Homo sapiens: one gene and its partners. The protein of the gene in region 3 purifies or fractionates together with the protein of the main gene of each other region. This does not show direct contact. Each region holds a gene or a part of one and is shown on either strand. Other genes may lie near its edges. The genes, in order: VPS50, GOLGA5, RABGAP1L, ACOT7, BMAL1, PHLDB3 and DZIP3.

Region 1 (3,500 bases), on a different chromosome or scaffold from region 3:
TCACTGCAGCCTCTCCCTCCTGGGCTCAAGCAATTCTTGTGCCTCAGCCTCCTGAGCAGCTGAAACTACAGGTGTGTGCCACCATGCCCACTAATTTTTTGTATTTTTAGTAGAGATGGGGTTTCACCATGTTGGCCAAGCTGTTCTTGATCTCCTGGCCTCAAGTTGATCCGCCCACCTAAGCCTCCCAAAGTACTGGGATTACAGGCGTGAGCCACCATGCCTGGTTATACTCCTGATTTCTGGTGGTAAAATCAGCCCTCGTAACCCTTATATCATCATTAATAATAATCACCATCATATCACTGTAAACTCTATAAATCTTTCATGTGTTGAAGTTATGGATCTATTAATAGTAATTTTCCCACTTACTCAGAGACCATGCTTACTCTGCCCATAACATCTAGGATACAAATAAGGATCAGTAATACATCTGAAATATCCCTGAGAAGCGAACAGCTATTTCAAAGACCCTGTACAGTGCTCTAGAATTGCACATCAGTTGAATATTCACACTATCATTTGTCTGATTTTTCTTTTGTTCTCATTTGTTATACAAAATAATGTATTAGAAAGTGGGAAGATGACAGTGACAAGCTGACAACAGTCGTGGCACTCTGTATTGAAACCAGCAGTGCTATAAATTATAAAAAGGCTGTGTCAGCAATCACGAATGAAGAGTATTTTAAATAAATTTGTTTAAGTCGAAATGTGAATAATATATGTAATACTTCTGTATAAAATACTCTTTTTTAAAAAAAAAAAAAAAAGCTTGGTCATTTTAAATAAAATAAGCTTTTATTTTCTTGCAACTTTCCTTAAGGTAAGTACCTCATTCCCACAGTTGAATTTTCCATGTTCTGTATGATTGATTGAAGAAATGAAACATTGACTTAATGAGCAATAAAGTGTTGTATTGTTAGGGTTTGTATATTTGTCTTTATTACTTAGTCCACCTTAAAACACACTGTTTCAGTAGTGTAGAATATCAGAATAGGTCTATAAGCTTTTTATCATGAAAAATATATATATACTTTCTATGCTTACATGCTTACACATTTCTTTATGTTTTCAGAGTGTTCATGGGAGAATTATTTCATTTGTTTCTTTTGCATTGCATTGAATATTGAACAGTTTTATAAAACTAAGATTACTTTGAAGTATTCAAAGCTTAGTTTTTATAAAGTAACTCTTGGCAGCCAGATTAACTGGAATACCAGTTTAACTTTCTTACAGACAATTATGTTGATTGAATACAGAGATCCGTGGTCTGTAGAACAACAAAGAGACTTGAACTCATTGGATCTCTTTGCAAATGAGAAAACTGAGGCCCGCATAGGTAAAATGACAGAGCACAAACACAACCCAGTCTTTCTGACTCAAGGCTTATGTTCTCTATTTCCTATAACCCTCTCATTTCTGGGGAATCTGTCCAAATATAGGTTAGAGAAAACTTCAAATACCTGACAGTTTTTTGTTTCTAATTATCCTATAATGTATTTTTTTTTATTGTTTTGCATCTTAGATATGCCAATGTCAAGAAATGCAGTAATGAGGGTCGTGCCCTGATGCAATTGGATTTTCAACAGTTTTTAATGAAACTTGAAAAACTAACAGATATTAGACCCATTCCTGATAAAGAATTTGTAGAAACTTATATTAAAGCTTATTACCTAACTGAGAATGACATGGAACGGTGGATCAAAGAGCACAGGGTGAGAGCTGGAAAATAGTTAATTAAGTTTTTATTCCTTTTTCTTTGTGCTGTTCTTGTTGGGTGTGTTATTTAATTCAAAATCATGAGAGTGAAATATAAAGAAACATTTGCTTTTTTAATACAAACTACTTAGGTCAATTCTTTGCCTTATTCAGATTAAGGGCACCGTATCTAAGCAGTGCCCTTTGACTCATCAAATCTTTTTCAGCCCTTTGTGAACTGTTACTGTAATGATCTAGAAATACAGCCAAAGCCAAGACATTAGCTATATTTTTCCTGCAACTGTGTTATAGGAAAAGGCTGAAGTTGATAAATACTGAGACAGATTGAATACAGAAACAATGAAATGATTCATAAGCCATAATCGATTATGTAACTTAAACCTTCTCATACAAACCTTCTCGTACTCCTCAACGATGAAATGGTAACATCCTACACACTGACACGTATTAGTGATGAGTGAAGACATTAATATTTAAATGGCTAAACTTAACTTACATCTTACATTAGATTTTACCTTTAATATAGATTTGATTATTTTTCTTTTGTATGACTATATAGATAACGAAAAATACTATTGTTACGTAGGATGCCGAATTTTTGACACAGTTCAACTCAGTGAGCTTGGTATGGGAAGCTTTTCTGTATATGGCATGTGTTAAAATTATCACCAAATCCTCATTGCTTTGATAACTCTAGGATTTACATTTTCTTAACCTATGAATGTCATGGGTAAAAGCTAAGTCAAGTTTTATTTCATTTGGGTAAGAAAATAATTATTTGTATATACCTGCTCAGACTCATCCTTTCTGGCCTTAACACTGTAAAGAGATAAAATGCATTAGCCTAGAACATTCACATTGGCGTGAATCTTGTGTGAATGTCCCCACTCTTACTCAGTTTCGGATCTTTAGAAGCAAAGTAGGAATGTATGTGTTATTTTTAATGAGTTCGACCAGTAAAGCCAGATTGAGAAAAACTTCACCACGTTTAGCCCCACTGACATTTGATAACCAAAATGTTAAACCTAGATGCAGATAGACTGCTTAATGTTGCTAGAATCCATTTAGTAAAGTAAGCTGTAAACACTTCTGGGTTGGTACTGAGGAAAGGGTTTTGGGAAAGAATACAAAGTAGCCAAGGAGGAAAGGCACAGCTCTATTCGATGCAAGAATGATGCCCGTTTTTTGAATTTCCTCTTTTAATATAGTAGACTGATTTTTTTTTAACTTAGTACTTTGAAAGAGCTTTAACTGATTGATATTTGTAATTCAGTGACATTTCCCCAGCAGCAGCAGGGACTCTTTTCTGTCTTTGAAGGAAACTTCCCACAATGATGAGTCCAGCGATCACTGACGATGGATCCTCACTGAATGCTGAGTGGTTAAATGAGATTACTTACCAGGCGGGGACAGGTGCTCTCAGAGATCAGATACACAAGCTGAGCAGTTTGCCAAGTTTTTAAAATCAATTCTTTCTCCTATTTTGAAATTGTACTATATTTAGTGGTTACCTTCAATAAAGACACATTTTCTTTTCTTATTAGATAATAGTACACAGCTGTCTTTCCCTATCTGAACTCTTGCTATTCAACCTCCAGTACCAAGTCAATCTGCAGAAATTTCTGATGAATCCCTGTTTATTCTCATCCTAGCAATTCAGTATCTAAAATTCAGGAACCAGATGGATTTGGATTGCGAAAGATACTCGTAGTCTTAATTTTATTTGCAGCTCCCTGACTTTGTGATCCTTGTTACCTTATTCATTTGTTGTATCTTAGAAG
Region 2 (3,500 bases), on a different chromosome or scaffold from region 3:
GGGAAAGGCCTTGGATGGCTATATTTTTAACAAACTTCCTGGTTGATTTTAATGCATTGCCATGTTTGGGAGTTACAACTTTACATTTCCTATACTTTAGCTCCTAACAAATTAAGAATTTTTTCCCATCCCTACTATGTTGTTTGGCTGAGCTAATAAATCCCATAAGATATCCGAATGGATGGTTGTAAAATATGTTTCAAAGCTAAATGATATCATTAATTATGATATAAAAATTTGTCACAGAGCGAGTTTGCTGCACGCCTTAATAAAGTGGAAATGGAACGTCAGAATTTAGCAGAAGCAATTACACTGGCCGAAAGAAAATACTCAGATGAGAAGAAGAGGGTTGATGAACTGCAGCAGCAAGTCAAGCTGTATAAGTTGAACTTGGAGTCCTCTAAGCAGGAATTAATTGACTACAAGCAAAAAGCTACTAGAATACTGCAAGTAAGCATGAAATGTACACTTTTGGATGTTAAGATGTGCAAGTTAACTGAAAGGCAATTTGAGACTGTGTAGATACTGTGTGAGGTGCTTTGTTCATGTTCGTCTGATTGGCTAGCTTTAGGTGCCTTACTCTACTTTAGAAATTTTATTAAAGGATGCAGTGTTTCTTGTTCCTACCACTTCTTTTAAAAAAAAAATTCATTCTGCCACTGCCTAGTTCAGGTCTTCAACCTGTCACCTTACTCACTGTGATGATATTAATGCTTGTTGTTGAGCAGCTGTTTATTCTTCCTTGTTGATCTCCTATTGAATTTTTGCAGCAACTGCTTTAGGACTCATCCAGTTCTCAGAATTGTCTCACCCAGCTTTTTTTCCCCTCCTTCAGATCTAAGGTGATCTTACCCTCTACTTTACTAAGAAAGACTACAGTCATCTAATGTCGTTTTTGAATTCTCTTTCCTTTGTCCCTCAGAGGGAAAACATGTCCTTTCATTTTTTTCTAGGATCATTTTCCTGCCTGTGCATTGATTCCATCTCCCATCTCATGTGTAAGCCCTTTCTCCATAGATCTATGCCCTTCCTTCCTGTGTGTGCCTCTCTGCTGCTGCTGCCTTCTGGCTCAGCTTACTCAAGAGCACATGGTTATTTAGTGGAAAAATGAAGACTAGATCTCGGACTCCTGCCTAAGAGAAAAACAGTCTCTTTTAGCTTTGTGACCACTTTGCACTATTTCCCTATCTTCCTTTCTTTCAGTGTCATGCTTACCAGAATTGTGTACGTGCTGTCTTCATTTCTGTAGAACTTGTTAACTCTTATCTCCTTCTTTTCCTACTACATGTCTGAAATTTCTTCTCAAAAATATTTGATGACCTAAATAAATATTCTCTGTCCTTTTCTTAGTCTCCATACCTTGTATTTTGGTAGAACATTTGGCTCTGTTAACCCTCCCACTTCCTTGGAACTCCTGCCTTCTATGCTATTCACATCTCCTTGGCTCTCTTTTTGTCCTCTTCTACTGCTGTTTCTGTCTCTCTTGGGCGCTCTTCCCAATCTCCAAAGAGTCAGAGTCCTCCTAAGCTCTGTCCTGAACCCTCTTTCATTGTCCTTTCTTACCTTGCACTGCTGTATGCTGCCTCTGCTTCTAATAGCCGCCTGCATATGACTTCAAGCATGTTTCCAAGCCTGACCTCCTGACCTCAGTGCCCAGCTGCCTACTGTGCAGGCATGGAGTGTTCAGCTCCCAGACCAACTTCTCCCTCATTCTTCTGTTCTGGTCAACGTTACTGCCATGTGGCAGTAAAGCTTGAAACCTCAGGGTCATTTTTGACTTTACCTTTTTTCTTTAGTCTCAAACTTCTAATGGCTATGAATACCTTTTTTTAATGCTACTTCCATGAAGTATCATATTGATCTCCTCCTCAAACTCTTCTTTCTAAGTACTTTTTTGTATCACCCTAATTTGTTAATTCATTGAAAAGTTACTTATTGAGCACCTAACTACTCACTAGGCACAGAGGATACAAAGCTCAAAAGATGTGTCCTCTTCCTTTAAGAAAACATTCATCTTAGTGGAAAGAAACAGATAATTGACGTAATAAGGTTATTAATGCAGTACAATGGGAGCTTGAGAGAAGAATCCCTTAAAACTTGCCTGAGGCTGTCAAAGATCACTGGACTGAGGAGATGTGGTATAAAGAGAAACTTGAAAGATGAATAGGAAGACTCATGATAGGGAAGAGATTTCCGAGAGAACAACCTGTGCCAGAGCAAGGGGGCCAGAGAGAACATGGCATATTTAAGGGACTGCAGCTAGTTCCATACTGCTGGAACATAACGTCTTCAGAGATGGGAGGCAAAAGACTCATAAAGTTCAACGGCAGGCAGAAGCCATGGTCAGGTTTGAGTGTGAGAACTGTGGCAGCCTGATGAAAAGGTTAGGGGAGATTTGGGCCTCTGTCTTGTTCATCGTTGTATCCCCAGCACAGTGCCTGGTATTCGGTACATTGTTGAAAACATGGAAGTGATAAGGGGTGGCATCAATGGCATGTAGATGGTGAAGAGGTGATCATAAGAAATAATGAGGACCTGATCAAAGTTTTTGGCAGTGAGGATGGCAGGCAGGGGACAGCTAAGAGATATGTGGGAGATAGAATATATGACATGTGGAGATTTAACTGGAAGGATGGGGGAAAAAGGCAAATGGAATCCAGGATGACTCCAGGTTTTTGGTTTAAGTGTATGAATGATGTTTCCTTGTGTTAATAAAAGGGGAAACAGGAAAGAGAACAGGTTAGGGTTAAAGGAGAGTATGACGAATTATGGTAAGTATGCAAAATTGATGCAACATTGAGGTGACAATGTTAGAAAGGTAATTAGAAGTAAGTTGGGAGAGTAGGTAAGTTTAGGCAAGAGCGATGTGTAACCTAACGGGGAGAAAGGCTGAGGTCTAAAAACACAGTCTTAAACATCAGCATTTACAAATTGGGCAAAAGGATAGCCTGCAAAAGAAAAATACTGAGAAGGTGAGTGGTCAGAGATTGGAGAGAACCAGGAGGAGACTGATGCCATCCAATGAAGCCAAGCAGAGGGAGAGTTTCAAGTGGTGCATGATCACCAACCACAGCACGCGGCTCTGATGTGACAAGTCCCGAGCTAAATTCCTGGACTTGGCAACTAGGAGGTCCCTGGGGACCTCTCAACAGAGAGTTCCGGGGTGCGCTGGGAGCTGAAGACATGGAGGCAGGGTACTTGACCATGGACATGAGGACAGTAGCTAGATGGGGGAATGAGGTTGGGAGGTTTCTGGTTTTTTATTAAAAAAAATCTTAAAATGTTATAAATGATCATGTTTATTATAGAAAATTTGAAGAATACAAAAGAAGTTTGAAGAAGGAAATGGAAATAACCCATAATCCTACCACCCAGAAAAGGAAAAATTATTTTTGATGGAGGAGAATGACTTTAAAATATTTTAATTTAACGTGAAAGCTGCTGGTCCTTGTTGTTCCTAGTCTAGAATTAGGACTTTATAAACTGGTCTTTGCATGTCA
Region 3 (3,500 bases):
GTGAAGGCAATATAGAAGCTTTTTTCTTTTTCTTTTTGGTGTTAATAAGTGATAATGTGTCAGGAAAGAGAAGCTATATGTCTTAGGATGTTGAATTCTGTATTAGTCAACTTTAGTTACTCAGAAAAAATATTTGCAGGTACAATATTCGGTCTTGAGGAGATAAGTTTTTTTTTGAAGCATTTAGATTTAATTAATATAGCAGTGTCAGTGAATATGGTTTTGTGTCTGTGTGTGCATTTGTAGGTATTTCTAGTATCATTTAATTATTTCCTCTATTAAAAAGAAAACAGTATTTCTAAGAGAAATGAGAGTGAGTGTGTCAGGTAAACAGTGATAAATCTGGTTGAGATATGGACTGGTTTGTGTAAATTTTTAGGTAACAATATGGCTCTATTAGTCTGGAAACTTAGGATGAAGAGAGAGTACATTTCCATTAAGTGGCTCAGTCCAAGAAGGTAGCCTCCCTAACTTTGAGATAATTATCTAGCCAGCAGGATTCTTCTTCACATAAACCATTTTTAAAGCTTTATTAGTTCATGTTTTTAATTAGTTCATGTTTTTAATCAGTAGGTTTTTTTTTTTAATCCCTTTTGTTTTTCCAGGTGGTTGTGGGAAGAGAAGTTTGCAGAACTGAAATGGAGGTCAGAGCTTCATTACAGAAGGTTAGTGGATCATCTGATTCTGTGGCTACAATGAACAGTGAAGAATTTGTTTTGGTTCCTCAGTATGCAGATGATAATTCTACAAAACATGAAGAAAAACCTCAACTGAAGGTATTTTTTTCTTTTCTACATATGGTATAATTTTTAATTAAAAACTATTTGAAACTTAGGAGATGTGTAAAATGCAAAGGTTTTTCTCAAGTGCTGACTTTCAAAATAAAATCAATGTTTGATTTATCCAGACCCTAATTATTTGGTTTGTGTATTTTAAAAAGTTCTTGCTTTTGGTTGTTTACCTTTTGATTTGGAATTTTAGGGGGAAGAATAAAAGAAGAAAAAGAAGAGAAAGGATTTTTTGGTGAATTAGACATAATGGTTAAATTTTACATTACTTTATCTGGATGTTTTTGTTTCTCTTACTGCTGGGTTTTAGAAGTTAATTAAATGTTTTGCTTTCACTTGAGAGACTTTTTTCTTTATGATTTTTATGTTTTAAATCAGCTGGTAACGTTCCGTTGTGTGATTTAACAGTCGACTTGTCTAAATGTTTTTAAAGCATATCTTATATTTTTAGCATTTGAGTTTTTATTTAGATATGGTCCCTTTTTCACTTCTGTGTTGCACTTTCTAAGTCAAAGAAAAGGAAGCAAGTAAACTCAGTTATATAGGCTTGAAAATGGTATAACTGTCTTCTAGAAACAGGAATAGGAAAAGTAGTTAAAAGTGCTATATATTACTTATGACTTTTATTTAGTATTAACTATGGCATCAAAAGTGTATTAATATATCAGTCTAATAAAATATATTCTGAAAATGAGATTACTAAATGTTTATGTTGAGAATATATTGTTTTATAATTTTATTTAAATAATCAGTGGCTTTATTTTTAGATACCTGTATTTTAGCATTATTGTGTTTAAGACATCACTTATTTGCTTAGGCTTTGTGTTTCACCTGCCTTTGAGAAAACTATGAGTCAACTTAAGTGTAAGGAAATTAGCAATATTCATCTTGGGAGCTAGCCAACAATTTGTAAAGAAATCAGAAATATGGTTATGCTGTGCTAACAAGAAATATAACCTTTTAAATGATATTCATAATAGACCCGATTTAAATTTACCTATTTTTTCCTTTAGACATGTAAATTTAAGGTTATCTGATTTTTAGGGTGTGTTCCTAAAAAAGAAAAAGAAAAAGAAGGGCCAGGCGTGGTGGCTCATAGCCTGTACTCCCAGCACTTTGGGAGGCCAAGGTGGGCAGATTGCTTGAGGTAAGGAGCTCAAGACCAGCCTGGCCAATGTGGGGAAATCCCGTCTCTACAAAAAATACAAAAATTAGCTGGGTGTGGTCGTGCACGCCTGTAGTCCCATCTACTTGAGAGGCTGAGGCATGAGAATCGCTTGAACCCAGGAGGCGAAGTTTGCAATAAGCTGAGATTGCACCGCTGCATTCCAGCCTGGGTGACAGAGTGAGACTCTGTCTTTAAAAAGAAAGGGGAAAAAAAGATAAATACATCTCTGTAAATAGGATCTTATATAAAATGTAGTTGGAAACTGTCTTAAGTGTTTTATAAAGAATCCTTTTGTGAAACTAATAATCTTCCTCTAATTTAGTTTTATAACCAGGATTTTAATGTATTATATATGTGAAACAACTTCTTAGTATTTTAGTAACTATATTTAAATATTTAGATTGTTTTAATTTCTTCTAGAAATGAAATACTTTCATAAAATTTAGCTTCAGAACTATGGTAGAATTGAAACAGAATTGTCTTGCTGTGTCTGTAGATAGTTTCTAATGGTGATGAACAATTGGAAAAAGCCATGGAAGAGATTTTGAGAGATTCCGAGAAAAGGCCAAGCAGTCTTCTTGTTGATTGTCAAAGTTCCAGTGAGATTTCAGACCATTCGTTTGGAGATATTCCAGCCAGCCAAACAAATAAGCCATCTCTTCAGTTAATTTTGGATCCGTCTAACACAGGTACTGTATTGAATTCTTAGAAACTATTAAAGAAATGGGATAAAGTAATAGTGAAAATTTTAAGATGAAAATCAGAAAAAATTGTTAGCTCTTCTCAAGCTTTCAGTTCTTGTTGAGAGTTTCCACTTCGGTGTTATGTTTCTGCCTATATCTCTGCCTATAAAAATCAGGTCTTAATGTTCTTTGGGAACAAAGACTATGTCTGGGTCCTCATTTTACCCCTAGTACTTCATGCATGGTAGGTCCTCAACAGATACTTACTGAACAAATGAGTAAATACTTGGGTGTCACAGAATAGTGTAATGGAGATAGTCTTTCATGTGATGTGCCTTTTTGCTCAGTTTCACTACACTTATTTAAAGTTATATTTAGTAAAAACTCTAAGTAAAACATATCAATTCCAACAGTGTATTAAATAATAAATACATCTATGAATAATTAGGATTTGTACTTTGAATACTAGCTTATAAGTCAAGATGCTTTTGGGTGCAAAAATAAATAAAACCAAAACCAGCTCCAACTTCAGCTGGCTTAAACACCACAGGTATAATTTGATCTAGGCTCTGATGGTGTTTTTTTGGTAACTACTCAGCTCTGATCTTGTCTATGTTACCTTTCTCCTTAGCTGGTTACAAAGTAGCTACCAGCAGAAACTGGTAGGTAAGGGAAGGTGACCTGTTTGTGCCTGGTGGCAAAGAGAAAGTCTTCATTCTTTTACTGATTTTTAAAATTTCTTTGGTGACACGATCTCATTCTGTCATCCAGGCTGAAGTGCAGTGATGCTGTTCAGCCTTCTGAGTAGCTGGGTGTGTACCACCATGCCTAGCTAATTTTTTTTTTTTTTTTGTAGTGATG
Region 4 (3,500 bases), about 170 Mb from region 3:
GACTGTGCTGGGGGTGGAGCCTTGGCCCCTTCCTGGAGAGGAGGGATGGCCTGCCGCGCTCTCCTGCTTCCTAGGACCTTCCTGCTTGTGAGGGCCCAGTCAGCAGTGCCCTTTGTCATTGCAGGAGTTGGTGGCTTCAAAAATGCCAGGAAGGGATCTGCTTTGCAGATTTTCTGCCATGAAAGCCCCCTTTGTGGTCCATCAGAGGCCATAGCCTCAGAGGAAGCCCTGAAGAGCAGGTTTCTTTTTTTTTTTTTTTTTTTTTTTGAGATGGTGTCTCACTCTGTTGCCCAGTCTGGAGTGCAGTGGTGTGATCTTGGCTCATCGCAACCTCTGCCTCCCAGGTTCGAGCTATTCTCCTGCCTCCCAGGTTCAAGCTATTCTCCTGCTTCAGCCTCCTGAGTAGCTGGGATTACAGGCATGAGCCACCATACCTGGCTAATTTTTGTATTTTTAGTAAAGACAGGGTTTCGCCATGATGGCCAGGGTGGTCTGAAACTCCTGACCTCAGGTGATCCAGCTGCCTCGGCCTCCCAAAGTGCTGGGATTACAGGCATGAGCCACCGAGCCCAGCCGAGCAGTTTGGGATGATGGGGAGAGAGGCAGGGAGACAGAAAGGCGTTCTCAGGCTTTCAGCATGGCTGGGACCCGCTGTCCCCACAGCAGAGAGTGATGCAGGCCAAAGGTCAGGGGTACTGAGCTTGAGGAACTCCCTAGATCCTGAACTTCCCTTTCCTGGCCGCTTCTGCTGGCCCATAATAGATATGGAACCGATAGTGGATGAGCAAATGAATGAATGAATAAGTGAATGAGCAGAGGCGACCAGGAAGAACTGGGCATCAGTGCTGAGACATGCTGGCTGATGGGGTTTTGATGAGGACGACACAATCTGACATATTCGTGAGGATCCCTCGCTCTTTAGGGGCTGAGAGGGGGAGAGGCTCCTGTGCAGAGCCAAGGCAGGCGTGAGCATGAGAGAGCAGCCCCCACCAGCTCACCCAGAAGGTGCTGGGAGCTTCTCGGCCTCCCAGCTGTGTCCTGGCCACCACAGCCCTCGGCCTTCTCCTCCTCCTCCGAAGGATGGGCTCAGAGAGGGACAGAGATGCCCACCCCTCCTCCCTGGGGACATCAGGGCTGGCATTGCGCTGTCGTGCGCGTGAGGCTTGGAGAAGGCAGGATACGCTTGCCAGCACATGAAGGCTTTTCCCAGTGGGGCTGGGCGGTGCCCCAGGTTCTTCTTCCCAGCTTCAGCCTTTTCCCTGTAGCAGGGGCTGGGCAGGGAGGCCTTGGAGCCCCAAGGCTGTAGCTTTTCTCCATATCTTGGTCAGGCCCCGGAGCCCGCTGTTGTCTCACTCTGTGACTGCGAGTCTCATCTCCCCCTCTGTCTCGCTCATCTCCTCGTCTGTGCTTCTGCTTCTCTGCCATCTCTCTCTGCAGTCTCTATTGTTCTCTTGAGGCCCTTCTCTGTCTCTGCCCATGTGTCCCCTGGAAATTGAACTCGAAGGCCCCAACAGCAAGAACAGTGCCTGGCACACTGTGGGCACACGGGGAGCACTGGCTGAATGGGTGGTGACCTCTGAAAGATAGGGGTATTGCAGGTGGGGGCAGAGGATGCGCGCGGGGACCCTGGCCCGGAGCAGGCTGAGTCATAAGCTGTGTGCGTGACATCTGTGTGCTGTCTCCACCCCAGGAGACAGGGGTCCCCTGTTCTGTGTGTCCCCTTTACCTGGGCTGTGCTGCCTGTCACGAGGCCGCTGAGCGAGCACAGGCCCAGGCAGACGACCCGCAAACCTTGCCTTTGAGGCAGCTCATTTATCTCCAGCAACTGTCAAAATATTAAGCTAACTGGGATGTGATTGCTGTGAATTGCTCCAGAAAAATAGCTGGGAGCTCTTAAGATTTTAAGAGATTTTTTTTTTTTTTTTTTTTTTTTTGAGACCGAGTCTTGCTCTGTCGTGCAGGCTAGAGTGCAGTGGCGCAATCTCGGCTCACTACAACCTCCGCCTCTCAGGTTCAAGTGATTCTCCTGCCTCAGCCTCCCGAGTAGCTGGGATTACAGGCACGTGTCACCATGCCTGGCTAATTTTTTTGTATTTTTAGTAGAGACCTGTTAGCCAGCATGGTCTCGATTCTGAGCTCGTGATCCGCCTGCCTCGGCCTGCCAGAGTGCTGGGATTACAGGCGTAAGCCACCGCAGCTGGCCGAGAGATAATTTTCTAATACTGCCGTTGTCTTTTGATGCTTTCATTAAATGATGGAGAAAATACAATTAGCATGTTTGCCTCATTTGCTCCATGGTGTTCATTTAGGTCCAGAGGGCCACTCGAGTTGTCATGGAAACCGGCTTGTCAGGCTGGCTCTAGCTGAATCCAACAGGAAATCTTTATTCCCAAAAGCAGGTTGTCAGATTCACTCTCAGTCAAAGTGCGGTGGAAATATTTTCCCATATTATTTGCCTGTGGTTCCCAAGCACTGGGAGCCCCACGTTCCCAAGGTGTGTTCTGTGCGGGGAGGAGGGGCAGGCACAGGCCTTTTCTTAATGGGCCCCCTGGGGCTTGATTTGGAGCCTGGGGCTGTGTTTATTGAGGAGGAAAAGCGCTTTGCCTTGGGGAGGCAGGTTCAGGTAACTGGTGGGAAGTGAGCTCCTCTGGGGGTTTTGGGCAGGGCCCTGGGGCTGCTCCTGTCTCCCTTTCCTCCATTACTTCCTGCAGTTTGCTCTTCTGCTTTATAGTGAGGATCTTCCACATTGAAGAAGCCACTTTTATTTATTTTTTTAAGACAGGGCCTCGCTCTGTCGCCCAGGCTGGAGTGCAGTGGTGCAATCTAGGCTCACTGTAATCTCTGCCTTCCGGGCTCAAGCGATCCTCCTATCTCAGCCTTTGGGACCACATGTGTGCACCGCCATGCCCAGCTAATTTTTTTTTTTTTTTTTTTTTTTTTGAGGCAGAGTTTTGCTCTCGTTGCCCAGCCTAGAGTGCAATGGCGCCATCTCGGCTCACCGCAACCTCTGCCTCCTGGGTTCAAGCTGTTCTCCTGCCTCAGCCTCCCGAGTAGCTGGGATTACAGGCACCACCACGCCCGGCTAATTTTTGTATTTTTAGTAGAGACGGGGTTTCTCCATGTTGGTCAGGCTGGCCTCAAACTCCTGACCTCAGGTGATCCGCCTGCCTCGGCCTCCCAAAGTGCTGGGATTACAGGTGTGAGCCACCGTGCCCAGCCAACCCAGCTAATTTTTTGTATTTTTGGTAGAGACGGGGTTTCGCCATGTTACCCAGGCTGGTCTGGAACTCCTGAGCTCAAGTGATCCACCCACCTCAGCCTCCCAGAGTGCTGGGATTACAGGTGTGAGCCACCGTGCCTGACAAAGCCACTTTTTAAAGGCATCCTTGCAGATACTTCTCTGAAATGACTGGGACATGGGAGTATGGCACCAAGTTGCTGTGTGACCCTGGGTAAACCCCTAGACGTCTCTGGGCCTCAGACTCCTTCTGTACAAGTGA
Region 5 (3,500 bases), on a different chromosome or scaffold from region 3:
AAGAAGGGGTAAGAAGAATCTAAGCGGGGAGTTTTGCTTTTCTGAATGCAAATAGTCCGGCCCTGGATGGAGGGATAACATTTGAGAGTAGTAGTTCTCAGCCCTATGTACATTAGAATCACATTAACGTGGAAGTGGGATGGGTTTAAAAATACCCCAGTGATCAGCCCCATGCCAGACCATCAGCATAAAAACAAAAACAAAAAACACTGCTCCGAATGTTGAGAACCACTGTTTTAGAGAGCTCCCTGTACGTGGAGGTTTTCAAGTTGAAGGCAGATGATGGCTGAGATGTTGGAGAGGGGATTCTTGAAGAGTCCTTCCAAATCTCAGATTCTCTGACTCTCCATAGAGTTGTTATTATTAGAGCAATGAAATATGATTCTCTGGACCATGATACCTTCAAAAGAACACGTGCAAGCTGAATTCTGCTTTGAAATATAACTTACTTTAATTGGACTTTCTTCCTATAATAATTAGATGATATGCAGAAACACACACACACACACACACACACACACACACACACACAATCTTACAGTTCTTCAGAGACGTTTGTTTTCAGCATCCTGCACTCAGGATATCACTGAAACTGTTAGTGTTCCTGTGCTTTGGATGCTTAGAAAGCACATCCTCTATTTGTTATCAGGGTGATTACAAATTATGTTTCCTACAGTATGAGAAATTGATTATCCATTTCTCCTGATTAGGCAGCAGATGGATTTTTGTTTGTCGTAGGATGTGACCGAGGGAAGATACTCTTTGTCTCAGAGTCTGTCTTCAAGATCCTCAACTACAGCCAGGTATTGTTCATGCTCCTGTTGATGGTGGGCAGCCTCACAGCAGTCAGAAGTGTCACTCAATTTTGTCAGAATAATTATAGTATACAAGTCACATGTGAACTTCTTCCAGAAAATTCTTAACTTCTTAACAGATAAATTAATTTAGACTTAGAACAATCTTGTAATATGTTCCGTATTCCCCCCATTGAAAGATCTGACTCTGATCTGATCGATAGCATTATGGCTTTCTTCTATTGCTGCAAAATAAATATCCCACAATATGTGGCAAGGACAGAGGGTAAGAGGCTATCTGACAAGGGAGAAAGGTAGGCAGGTTAACACAATACCAGAGAATACGTCACTTGGAAATCCACTCCATACTGTGTTTGCAGTGCTGTGTCACTTCTTAGCTCTATTGAACCTCAGTTTACTCTAAAAATTAATGATAACTTATAGGATCAAATAAGAGTAACATTTATAAACGCTTCTAGAACAGAACTTTTCACCTATTATGTCCCCCAGAGTTTTTATTCATTTATTCATTCACTCACACACTGGTATTTGCATGGAAGCTTGGTAGGCAGAAGACTTGAAGAATCAAAATGACATTTATGTAAATTAGAATTAATGTAAATTTAATTTTTCCAAAGATTTCTGCTCTTTTTAGTCTCAGAGCAAAGTTATGGAGGAAGTTGCTGTTATCTCTGTTAATAGACAAGGTGACTGAAGCATATGATATGCGTGACTTGCTTGAGAACAGAGAGGCTGAACAGCAGAGCTGGAATCAGAGCCCACCCCTATCTTCTGCCTTCTGAGGTCTTACAGGGGAATTCCAAGATTGTTGCCTTAGAAGAGCATAAACTGTTTATATAATTGAGGGTTTTCCCGTCATGTTATCAAAACCAACCTCCAGATGCCTCCTTCCTGGTGTCAGGCAAAGTGGTTGGACATATGTACAGGTTCACATAGGAAAAGTTTGAGGTCTCATGCACAAAAACACAAAGGCAACATGCAGACTGTGCATGCTTACTTGTTGCATAATTGATTTTCTGCATGCAATTGACTTGTCATGTTTAACATTTCATCTCCCCAGAATGATCTGATTGGTCAGAGTTTGTTTGACTACCTGCATCCTAAAGATATTGCCAAAGTCAAGGAGCAGCTCTCCTCCTCTGACACCGCACCCCGGGAGCGGCTCATAGATGCAAAAAGTGAGTACCAGAGAGGCCTCGCATTTCCTCAGCAGCCCACTCACAGGCAGCCAACCCTGAGTGAGCAGAGGGCGGGTGTGTGTGATGGGCTCAGCCTTTCCAGTCCTACTTCTCTGTCCTCTTTCTGGGGCACCAGAGCTATCTTTGGCTAAATGGAATTATTTATGTTCTTTGGTCTTTTACATAAAAAGAAGAAAAAAATCTCAATGTCCAAATTTATTGAAAAGAAGAGCTATTTAGACTGGATTCTTTCTGATTTTTAGACTTTTCTTTTTTCTTTCAGAATCTAGAAAATCCCAGTTGTATGCTCCTGAGTTTAAAGGGCTAAGTTTGATTTGTTCTCCCAGAACAAATGGGCTCTATTTACCTGAATTGCACACAGGCAGCCTCATAAAAGTAAGAAAACGTCAACTATAAATATGGTGTTTCTTCAACCAAAGTGTTCCTCCTTAGGTTGGCTCCCCCACCTGGCTTTCTTCTTTTGCAGTAGTGGAACCACCATCCACATCGCTCCCTCTGCCCCCAGCTTCCTGCTACTGCACACACTTCTGTGCAAGGCCCCAGTAGCTGTCATCTACTTTAGTCCTGTGGGAGGCTGTACACTCCTACAGTTAAGAATGAGAGAATGAGGACTCTGGCTGGGCGCAGTGGCTCACATCTGTAATCCCAGCACTTCGGGAGGCTGAGGCAGGTGGATCTCTTGAGGTCAGGGGTTTGCAACCAACCTGGCCAACATGGCAAAACCCCGTCTCTACTAATAATACAAAAATTAGACAGGTGTGGTGGTGCGTGCCTGTAATCCAAGCTACTTGGGAGGCTGAGGCAGGAGAGTTTCTTGAATCCAGGAGGTGGGGGTTGCAGTAAGCTGAGATTGTACCACTGACTGCACTCCAGCCTGGGTAACAGAGCAAGACTCTGTCTCAGAAAAAAAAAAAAAAAAAAAAAGAATGAGAACACAAGGGAGATTACTGGGCTCATTCCGGCTCCACCATTCACTAGCTGTGTGACCTTGAGCAAGTTACTTAACCTCTCTCTGTCTCAGTTTTCTCATTTATGGAAGAGTACCTATTTCTTTGGGTTGTTGTGAGGATTGAAAGTGTTAATGTATATAAAGCAGGCAGAACAGTTCCTAGCACATAGTAAGAACAGTATCAGTGTGGCCTAATGTCTTGCTCCCAAGCTGTCCACGTTAATCCCTGGAAAAAAATACCACCAGATAATCTCCTTCAAGTCATCTCTTTCATTACAGCACACCGCTTGTTCCTAAAAGTAAAATGCAGACTTTGGTATCTGTTGTTCTTTATAGTCTAGCCTTGGCTTTTTTAAGTGACCTTAGGAGAAAAATATGAATGGCATTTGGGCCTTGCCTTTGAGGCTCTTAGCATATAGTCAGAGAAATGAGACAGACAGCACCCTGCATAGTAATAGGTACAGCCATAGAAATAGTGCCAGGCATAGAGAACGGATGATTAATTCTCATGTGGGCGCAAGGACAGGCATCACTGAG
Region 6 (3,500 bases), on a different chromosome or scaffold from region 3:
TGGAGTCTCACTTTGTTGCCCAAGCTGGAGTGCAGTATTACAATCTCGGCTCACTGCAATCTCCGCCTCCAGGGTTCAAGCGATTCTCCCGCCTCAGCCTCTGGAGTAGCTAGGATTACAGGCGCCCACCACCATGCCTGGCTAATTTTGTATTTATAGTAGAGACGGGGTTTCACCATGTTGGCCAGGCTGGTTTTGAACTCCTGACCTCAGGTGATCCACCCGCTTTGGCCTCCCAAAGTGCTGGCATTACAGGCATGAGCTACCGTGCCTGGCCTTGTTTTCCATTTTTAACAGTAGAGACACTATGTTGGCCAGGCTGGTATTGAATTCCTGGCCTCGAGCCTCCCTTCTGGCCAAAGTGCTGAGATTATAGGCCTGAACCATCATGCCTGACCTAAAATATCTTTTCACAGTTGATTTATTTGAATCTATATGCAAAGCACACGCTATGCATTTGGTTTAATGTCTCTTAAATCTTTTAATCTCTAACAGTTCTGCCTCCCCATTAAAGAAAATGCTATTTATTTGTGGAAATAATCAAATAATTTATCCTGTTGACTTTTTCACATTCTTGATTTAGCTGACAACTCCCTTACATAAATTACATTTTTGCCTATACTAATAACATTCATAGAATCAATGCGTTTTGTTATAAAGAATGATAAAGCTAGGCACCATAGCTCACGCCTATAATCTCAGCACTTTGAGAGGCCGAGGTGGGAGGATCACTTGAGTCCCGGAGCTGGAGAACAGCCTGGGCAACATAGTCAGACCCTCATCTCTACAGAAATTTAAAAAATTAGCAGGTGTGGTGGTGCATGCCTTTGGTCCCAGCTACTCGGGAAAAGGCTAAGGTGGGAGGATTGCTTGAGCCCAGTGGGTGGAGGCTGCAGTGAGCTATAATCGCCCCACTGCACTCCAGCTTCAGTGACAGAGTGAGACCCTGCCTCAAAAAAAAAAAAGAATGATAGATAAAGTATTAAGAAAGTGGTCACTTTCTTCCTGATCTCACTTCTACTGCTGAGAAGCCTTCAAATCTGTGTTTATACTTTTCCACATGCACCAGTCAAGCCATATTTTGTGAATTTGTCTCATAAATAAGCACATCCTTCCCAACCTTTTTGTTTTTACCACCATTTGTCCTTCCCTTATTCATTTCAGCCCATATTTATTGAGTGCCTACTGTGTGCTAGACCCTGGGTCATAGCAGTGACCAAGATAACAATCCCCACCTTTGGGGGAAGCTGATGTTTTAAGGGGGAAGATGGACACAAAGCAACATCAATATGTAAAATAAATAGCATGTCAGAGGCTGATAAGAGCCAGGGAGCAAAATAAGGCAGGAACGGCAGTGGGGTCTTCTGCATTGTTAGGCATAAGCTTGTGCTCATTAAAAACGAAGCACAGGCCAGGCGTGGTGGCTCACGCCTGTAATCCCAGCATTTTGGGAGGCTGAGGTGGGCAGATCACCTGAGGTCAGGAGTTCGAGACCAGCCTGACCAACATGGAGAAACCCCGTCTCTACTGAAAATACAAAAATCATCTGGGCGTGGTGGCATGTGCCTATAGTCACAGCTACCCGAGAGGCTGAGGCAGGAGAATCGCTTGAACTGGGAAGCAGAGGTTGCAATGAGCCAAGATCACACCACTGCTCTCCAGCCTGGGTGACAGAGCGAGACTCTGTCTCAAAACAAACAAACAAACAAACAAACAGAATTGCTCCTGCTCTGGTGTTCTGCCTGGCTTCTAGCATCATCATTTATTAAACAGTCCCCTGCTGTGTGCTTTGTCCCCTGCCGTACACCCCTGCTATCTTTTGTGCACGTGAGCAAGTGTGTCCCTGGGCTTCACACCTAGAAGAGGAACCTCTAGGTGAGAGACCCTGAGGGCAGCCAGCTCATCCTTGAAACAGCCCCAGAGGAGAGTGCTGTGATAACCCTGGTGTTTTAGCATAGGGAACTGAGGCTCCCAGAGGGGCAGGAGTTCTGTGGAGGTGACACAGCCGGGCAGTGGTGGAGTCCCAAGCCCATCCCTGGTCTCCTCCTAGATTGGGGCCCAGCTCCCCTACATCCTAGTTTGGTGACCTTGGAGAGTCACCTCTTCTTAAAGCCTCAGTTTCTTGATCTGTCTAGCAGGAACATTAATGGGTTCTTTTGGAGAAGAAACGAGGTAATCACAGTGACCACTTGGCATAGTGCCTGACACAGAGCGGGAGCTTCCACACACAGTGGTGATCCTTGGTCTTTCTGTGTGGATTTGGGGAGATTGCAGGCCCAGCGGGTACTCTTTAAACCTGGCCTTTCCCTCCCTTCCTTTCCCTCCTCCCTAATCCTTCTCATTTCCCCACCTCACTCTCCTGTCTCCAACCAGCAGATCTCATCTCTGTTTCTCATCCCTTCTTGCTCTGGCCTTGCTTCAGTTTTCTTTCTTTTCTTTCTTTTTTTTTTTTTGAGACATGGTCTCCCTTTGTCACCCAGCCTGGAGTGCCGTGGTGTGATCTCGGCTCACTGCAACCCCCACCTCCTGGGCTCAAGCGATCCTCCCACCTCAGCCTCCTAATTAGCCGGGATCCTAGGCACACACCACCATGCCTGGCTAATGTTTGTATTTTTGTATTTTTTTTTTGAGATGGAGTTTCGCTCTTGTTGCCAAGGCTGGAGTGCAATGGTGCCATCTTGATTCACCGCAACCTCCACCTCCCGAGTTCAAGCGATTCTCCTGCCTCAGCCTCCTGAGTAGCTGGGATTACAGGCATGCGCCACCACGCCTGGCTAATTTTGTATTTTCAGCAGAGACAGGGTTTCTCCATGTTGGTCAGGCTGGTCTCAAACTCCCAACCTCAGGTGATCCCCCCACCTTGGCTTCCCAAAGTGCTGGGATTGTAGGCGTGAGCCACCACGCCCAGCCTAATTTTTGTATTTTTTGTAGAGACGGGGTTTCGCCATGTTGCCCCAGGCTGGTCTCAAACTCCTGGGTTTAAGTGATCCTCCCCTCTTGGCCTCCCAAAGTGCTGGGATTACACGTGTGAGCCACCGCACCCATCCTGCTTCAGTTTTCTAACTCCTTGACACTCAAAGTGTGGCTGGTGGAACAGCAGCATCAGGGCCCACCTGGGAGCTTGTCAGACATGCAGAACCTCTCCCCCTACTCCAGACTCCACCCTGAAATGACTGAATCAGAGTCTGCATTTTAACATTTTAACAAAATCCCCAGCGGATCTGCTTGCATGAAGAAATCTGAGATGTACTACCCTGAACCTCAGTTTGACCTCCGGAATCATACCACTGTTTGCAGGGATTATTTGGGAAGAATAGGTTGGATCAGACCAGCTCATGGTCAGGCTCTCATAAATAGTGGACACTTGTATTGCCTTAAATCCTCCTCCCCAACCTGTATGACCATCTGAGGTGACCACTCTACCTGGTGAGTCCTGGCTCTGTCAGCTCTGGCTGTGTGACTTGTGCCGAGTGACTTAACCTCTCTGAGTCTTGGTTTCC
Region 7 (3,500 bases), on a different chromosome or scaffold from region 3:
TCTTTCTGAAAAATGCAGACTCCTTAATGTGACAAAAAAATCCTCTTGAATGTACTCTATGAACTCTCCCCTACTTTAATCTCAATGAAGCCAACATTTTTTAGTTGCCTGCAGTATATTTTTATGTTTCTATACCTTTATTTTTGTTTCCCTCTGAAACATTCTTCTCAGTCTGCTTCACCTGGCTAACTTCTGCACACCATTAATAGTTCTTTAACTATGATACTCTCCAGAAAGCTTTTTTGGACTTCTTTAGCCTAGGATTTCCCATGGTATTCTGGAAACATCTCTAGCACTATAATTTCTATTACCTTCCTGATGAGTCCATTTTCCCAAAACCATGAGCTCACTGAATCTCTTGCCCTTTGCACTGTGCCTGGCACAGAGCAGACATTCAATCAATGGAAGTTTATTGGCTGAAGTAAATAATCATTTAGTACCTTGTTGATAGCAGGATAACATCCTCTGTATGATTTCTGGTACTGGTATGCCTAGGTAGACAGATAGCTGATGGTAATCAAGGGAGATATTCTCAATGGGATTCTCCTTCACTTTGTCAATATCCTCTTGCATCATCCCAAGGCGCAGAAGAATATCTGAAACTTTTTTCCAAATTGAATTGAACTGTGACTCAGTGAGACCATTCATCAAAATCTCACTAAGGAGGATATCCCTGTATTTGCACAGTCTCAGGATGTCTGCAGATTTAGAGATGTCAGAAGATGGCGGTTCCATATTCCATCCTTTTTTGGGTGCAGGGAACACATTTAAATGTTTTATAAGAGCTAACAGGAGGCATAAGTCAAACTGTTTGGATTGCGGTAACTCCTTGTTAGGAGGATAAAGCAGATGCCATGATCCACCCAAAGGATGATTGGTCCAAAGATGGTTGTAGTAGGATTCCAGCACATTCTTGTGTATAAGAAGCTCTTTTTTCAAAAGAGGAGGTGGCATAGCCTCATCAAATATTTGTCGAACAATGTCAGTACCAGAAATAATAATTATATGAAGCAGATGATAGAAATAATTATAATCAAGCTTGAAGATAGGCATTTCATCTGAAAATAAATTTTGAGAAGTCAAGACATTCCACATTAATGCTCATTTTCTATTTGGTCTCTCACATTGTATCCTAAGCTCCTGTAGGATAAAAACTATTCCAAAAGAATGAAGGATAGTACAGTGCTTTGCCACAGCCAGTGCTCAATTAGCATGCTGCTTTCTGCCTGTCAAAAAACCTAAACAAAAACAACATGTTCCCAAGCAAAAGTAATAACAAAGACTAATCACCACAGAAGTCTTTCAGTCATCCAAGGTTTTGTTCAAGTAAATGACCTTTAGCAACAACATGGCATCACAGTATTAGGTCTTTAAAAATTCTGAAATTTGCCAAGAATGCTAATTGTCAATGTCTAACTATACTTTACTTAAACAATTATACTTTATCCTAATCAGCACTGCCCAATGGAACGTCATGTGATAAAATGTTTTATATTTGCACTAATACTCACTGAGCATTGGAAATGCGGTTTGGGTGACTAAGGAACTGAATTTTAAATTTAATTTTAATTAATTTAAATTTAAGTAGCCACATACAGCTAGGGACTGCTATACTAGATAGCTCAGATCTATATCAAGAAATGCCAAAAGATCTAGCTCCTTGCTACTCAAAGGGTAGCCCAGAGACCAGCAGCATCAAGCATCCACCTGAAAGCCTGTTAGGAAAGCACAGTCTCAGGCCCCACTCTAGACCTACTGAAATCTGCCTTTTAACAAAATTGCCGGATATTTCAAATATATGTATAATGCTTGAGAAACTGTGATCTAATAAACCTCATCTTCTCACCCCCTCAAAAAAAGATAAGTAGGTATTTCATCAATAACATGGAATAAGGCATGAAACTGAACTATTTGGTATTTTCCTGTTTTAACAGTGCTTTCAAAGGAGAAAAGTCGGCTGAAGTGAATTAGAAAGTACTAATAATTTAGTATATAATGGCATTTGGTGTTATATGGATATCAAAATATGTGTTTGTCACAAAATGCAGCCTTATTATTTTATCCTTCAAGATTCTATGTTTCAAGAGATTTATTAAATTAACGTTTTTGCTTGAAATACTTGATATACATTGTGGAGGCAAGTTAAAAAGCTAATGACACAGGGAGCTTTCTTTGGGTTACCAAATAAAAAGTTGGCTGGACTGCCACCAAACTATTCTTCTATGGGCCCAGGGTCCCTTAATTAAGGCCTCCAGGTTCTGGGCAGGACATTTCCTAGCACACTCCTAAGAAGCTGGCAGCTTAGTTTAGATTACTTAGCCTCAAAACTTGGCCTCAAACTCAAAATGTTCATTCCTTTCATGTAAGGGTACTCTAATGCTTGCTCTATTAAGAAGGAATGCAGCAAGGGAAGGAACAGTTGGTAGAAAACCTCTGCTGGAACACAATCCCACGGTATAGTCACAGCTATGCACCAGACCTAGCATGCCTCTCTATAGGATGTCAAGGTAATGTGAGATCCATAGATGTGCTGATCTTCCTGTCTGTGATTTCCAGCCTACACCAAGCGCTGCTTGCTGGTATAAACCCAAGCTCAGTGAATGACAAACACAGTAAAGACGTGGTTGTTAATGGCATGAAAGTTGACAGAGAAGTCAAAAATTTTAACATACTTTTCAACAGAAGGCATATAAAAATAAAATAATACCTTTTGTATTAAATTTTAAACTGATCTTCGGTCTTATATCAGTATCAGTTATTTTCAGAGATATCAACTTTCTATAACTGCAAAAGGAAAAAAATTAAGTTATAGTGGAAATAAAATAATACCAAAGTCAGTCAAGATTTCTAGTATGAGCATGGCTAAGTGAGTATTTTCATCTTCTCCTAGAAATAATTCAAGAAGGAGAAAAAATAATGAACAAATAGAGCTCACCAACAATGAAAACCCTACACTGTCACTTTCATTGGAATTATCAAGTAAGCAGTATTGCCAGATTTCATACTAAAACTATCACATTACAAACTTCCTTGCAAAAAGGCTGTGTGGTAGCAGAAAAAAAAGGAAAGAAAGCTTTGCATTGTAAGACAAAAAAAGCAAGCAAGCAAACAAAAAAATAGCAAATCTGGAAGTCCTCCCTGGCCCTCTCTTCACCATATAATATTTTTGGCAATAACTATTCCAAGAAACCCCAACTCATTTAACACCTACTGATTAAAAACAATAAAGATGCTAGTAGAACATCAATACAAATAATTAGAAAAATAAAAAATAAAGTAGCAAAATGTATTAACTAGACTAAGCACTAGGTAAATGCTGCCGTTAAACAGATGGCTTGGCTTTGAAATGAACCACGGAAAACAAAACAAAAAAATATTGGACAACAACGCTACAATGTAAGCTTAATGAGGAAAGGGATTTTGGTGGTGGTTGTTATTGTTAACTGATTCTATCTCCAGTACCACTATAACACTGTTAGTTGCACATTACATTGAAAAAA

Evidence for each region.
Region 1: the proteins of RABGAP1L (region 3) and VPS50 purify together in Homo sapiens (affinity purification with mass spectrometry, with the first as the bait; one large-scale study listed by BioGRID). This does not show direct contact.
Region 2: the proteins of RABGAP1L (region 3) and GOLGA5 purify together in Homo sapiens (affinity purification with mass spectrometry, with the first as the bait; one large-scale study listed by BioGRID). This does not show direct contact.
Region 4: the proteins of RABGAP1L (region 3) and ACOT7 purify together in Homo sapiens (affinity purification with mass spectrometry; one large-scale study listed by BioGRID and IntAct). This does not show direct contact.
Region 5: the proteins of RABGAP1L (region 3) and BMAL1 purify together in Homo sapiens (affinity purification with mass spectrometry, with the first as the bait; one large-scale study listed by BioGRID). This does not show direct contact.
Region 6: the proteins of RABGAP1L (region 3) and PHLDB3 purify together in Homo sapiens (affinity purification with mass spectrometry, with the first as the bait; one large-scale study listed by BioGRID). This does not show direct contact.
Region 7: the proteins of RABGAP1L (region 3) and DZIP3 purify together in Homo sapiens (affinity purification with mass spectrometry, with the first as the bait; one large-scale study listed by BioGRID). This does not show direct contact.

What each region holds. Positions count from the first base shown.
Region 1 is NC_000007.14:93,354,366-93,357,865, forward strand, and holds part of VPS50 (syndetin), read left to right. Parts: intron 1-1,525; coding exon 1,526-1,715; intron 1,716-3,500.
Region 2 is NC_000014.9:92,811,305-92,814,804, forward strand, and holds part of GOLGA5 (golgin subfamily A member 5), read left to right. Parts: intron 1-246; coding exon 247-450; intron 451-3,500. UniProt on the Homo sapiens protein: Involved in maintaining Golgi structure. Stimulates the formation of Golgi stacks and ribbons. Involved in intra-Golgi retrograde transport.
Region 3 is NC_000001.11:174,218,520-174,222,019, forward strand, and holds part of RABGAP1L (rab GTPase-activating protein 1-like), read left to right. Parts: intron 1-605; 5' UTR 606-638; coding exon 639-776; intron 777-2,452; coding exon 2,453-2,645; intron 2,646-3,500. UniProt on the Homo sapiens protein: GTP-hydrolysis activating protein (GAP) for small GTPase RAB22A, converting active RAB22A-GTP to the inactive form RAB22A-GDP. Plays a role in endocytosis and intracellular protein transport.
Region 4 is NC_000001.11:6,334,768-6,338,267, reverse strand, and holds part of ACOT7 (cytosolic acyl coenzyme A thioester hydrolase), read left to right. Parts: intron 1-3,500. UniProt on the Homo sapiens protein: Catalyzes the hydrolysis of acyl-CoAs into free fatty acids and coenzyme A (CoASH), regulating their respective intracellular levels.
Region 5 is NC_000011.10:13,364,790-13,368,289, forward strand, and holds part of BMAL1 (basic helix-loop-helix ARNT-like protein 1), read left to right. Parts: intron 1-710; coding exon 711-803; intron 804-1,875; coding exon 1,876-1,993; intron 1,994-2,276; coding exon of another isoform or gene 2,277-2,389; intron 2,390-3,500. UniProt on the Homo sapiens protein: Transcriptional activator which forms a core component of the circadian clock.
Region 6 is NC_000019.10:43,480,747-43,484,246, reverse strand, and holds part of PHLDB3 (pleckstrin homology-like domain family B member 3), read left to right. Parts: intron 1-3,500.
Region 7 is NC_000003.12:108,641,722-108,645,221, reverse strand, and holds part of DZIP3 (E3 ubiquitin-protein ligase DZIP3), read right to left. Parts: intron 2,785-3,500; coding exon 2,708-2,784; intron 1,059-2,707; coding exon 441-1,058; intron 1-440. UniProt on the Homo sapiens protein: E3 Ubiquitin ligase proteins mediate ubiquitination and subsequent proteasomal degradation of target proteins.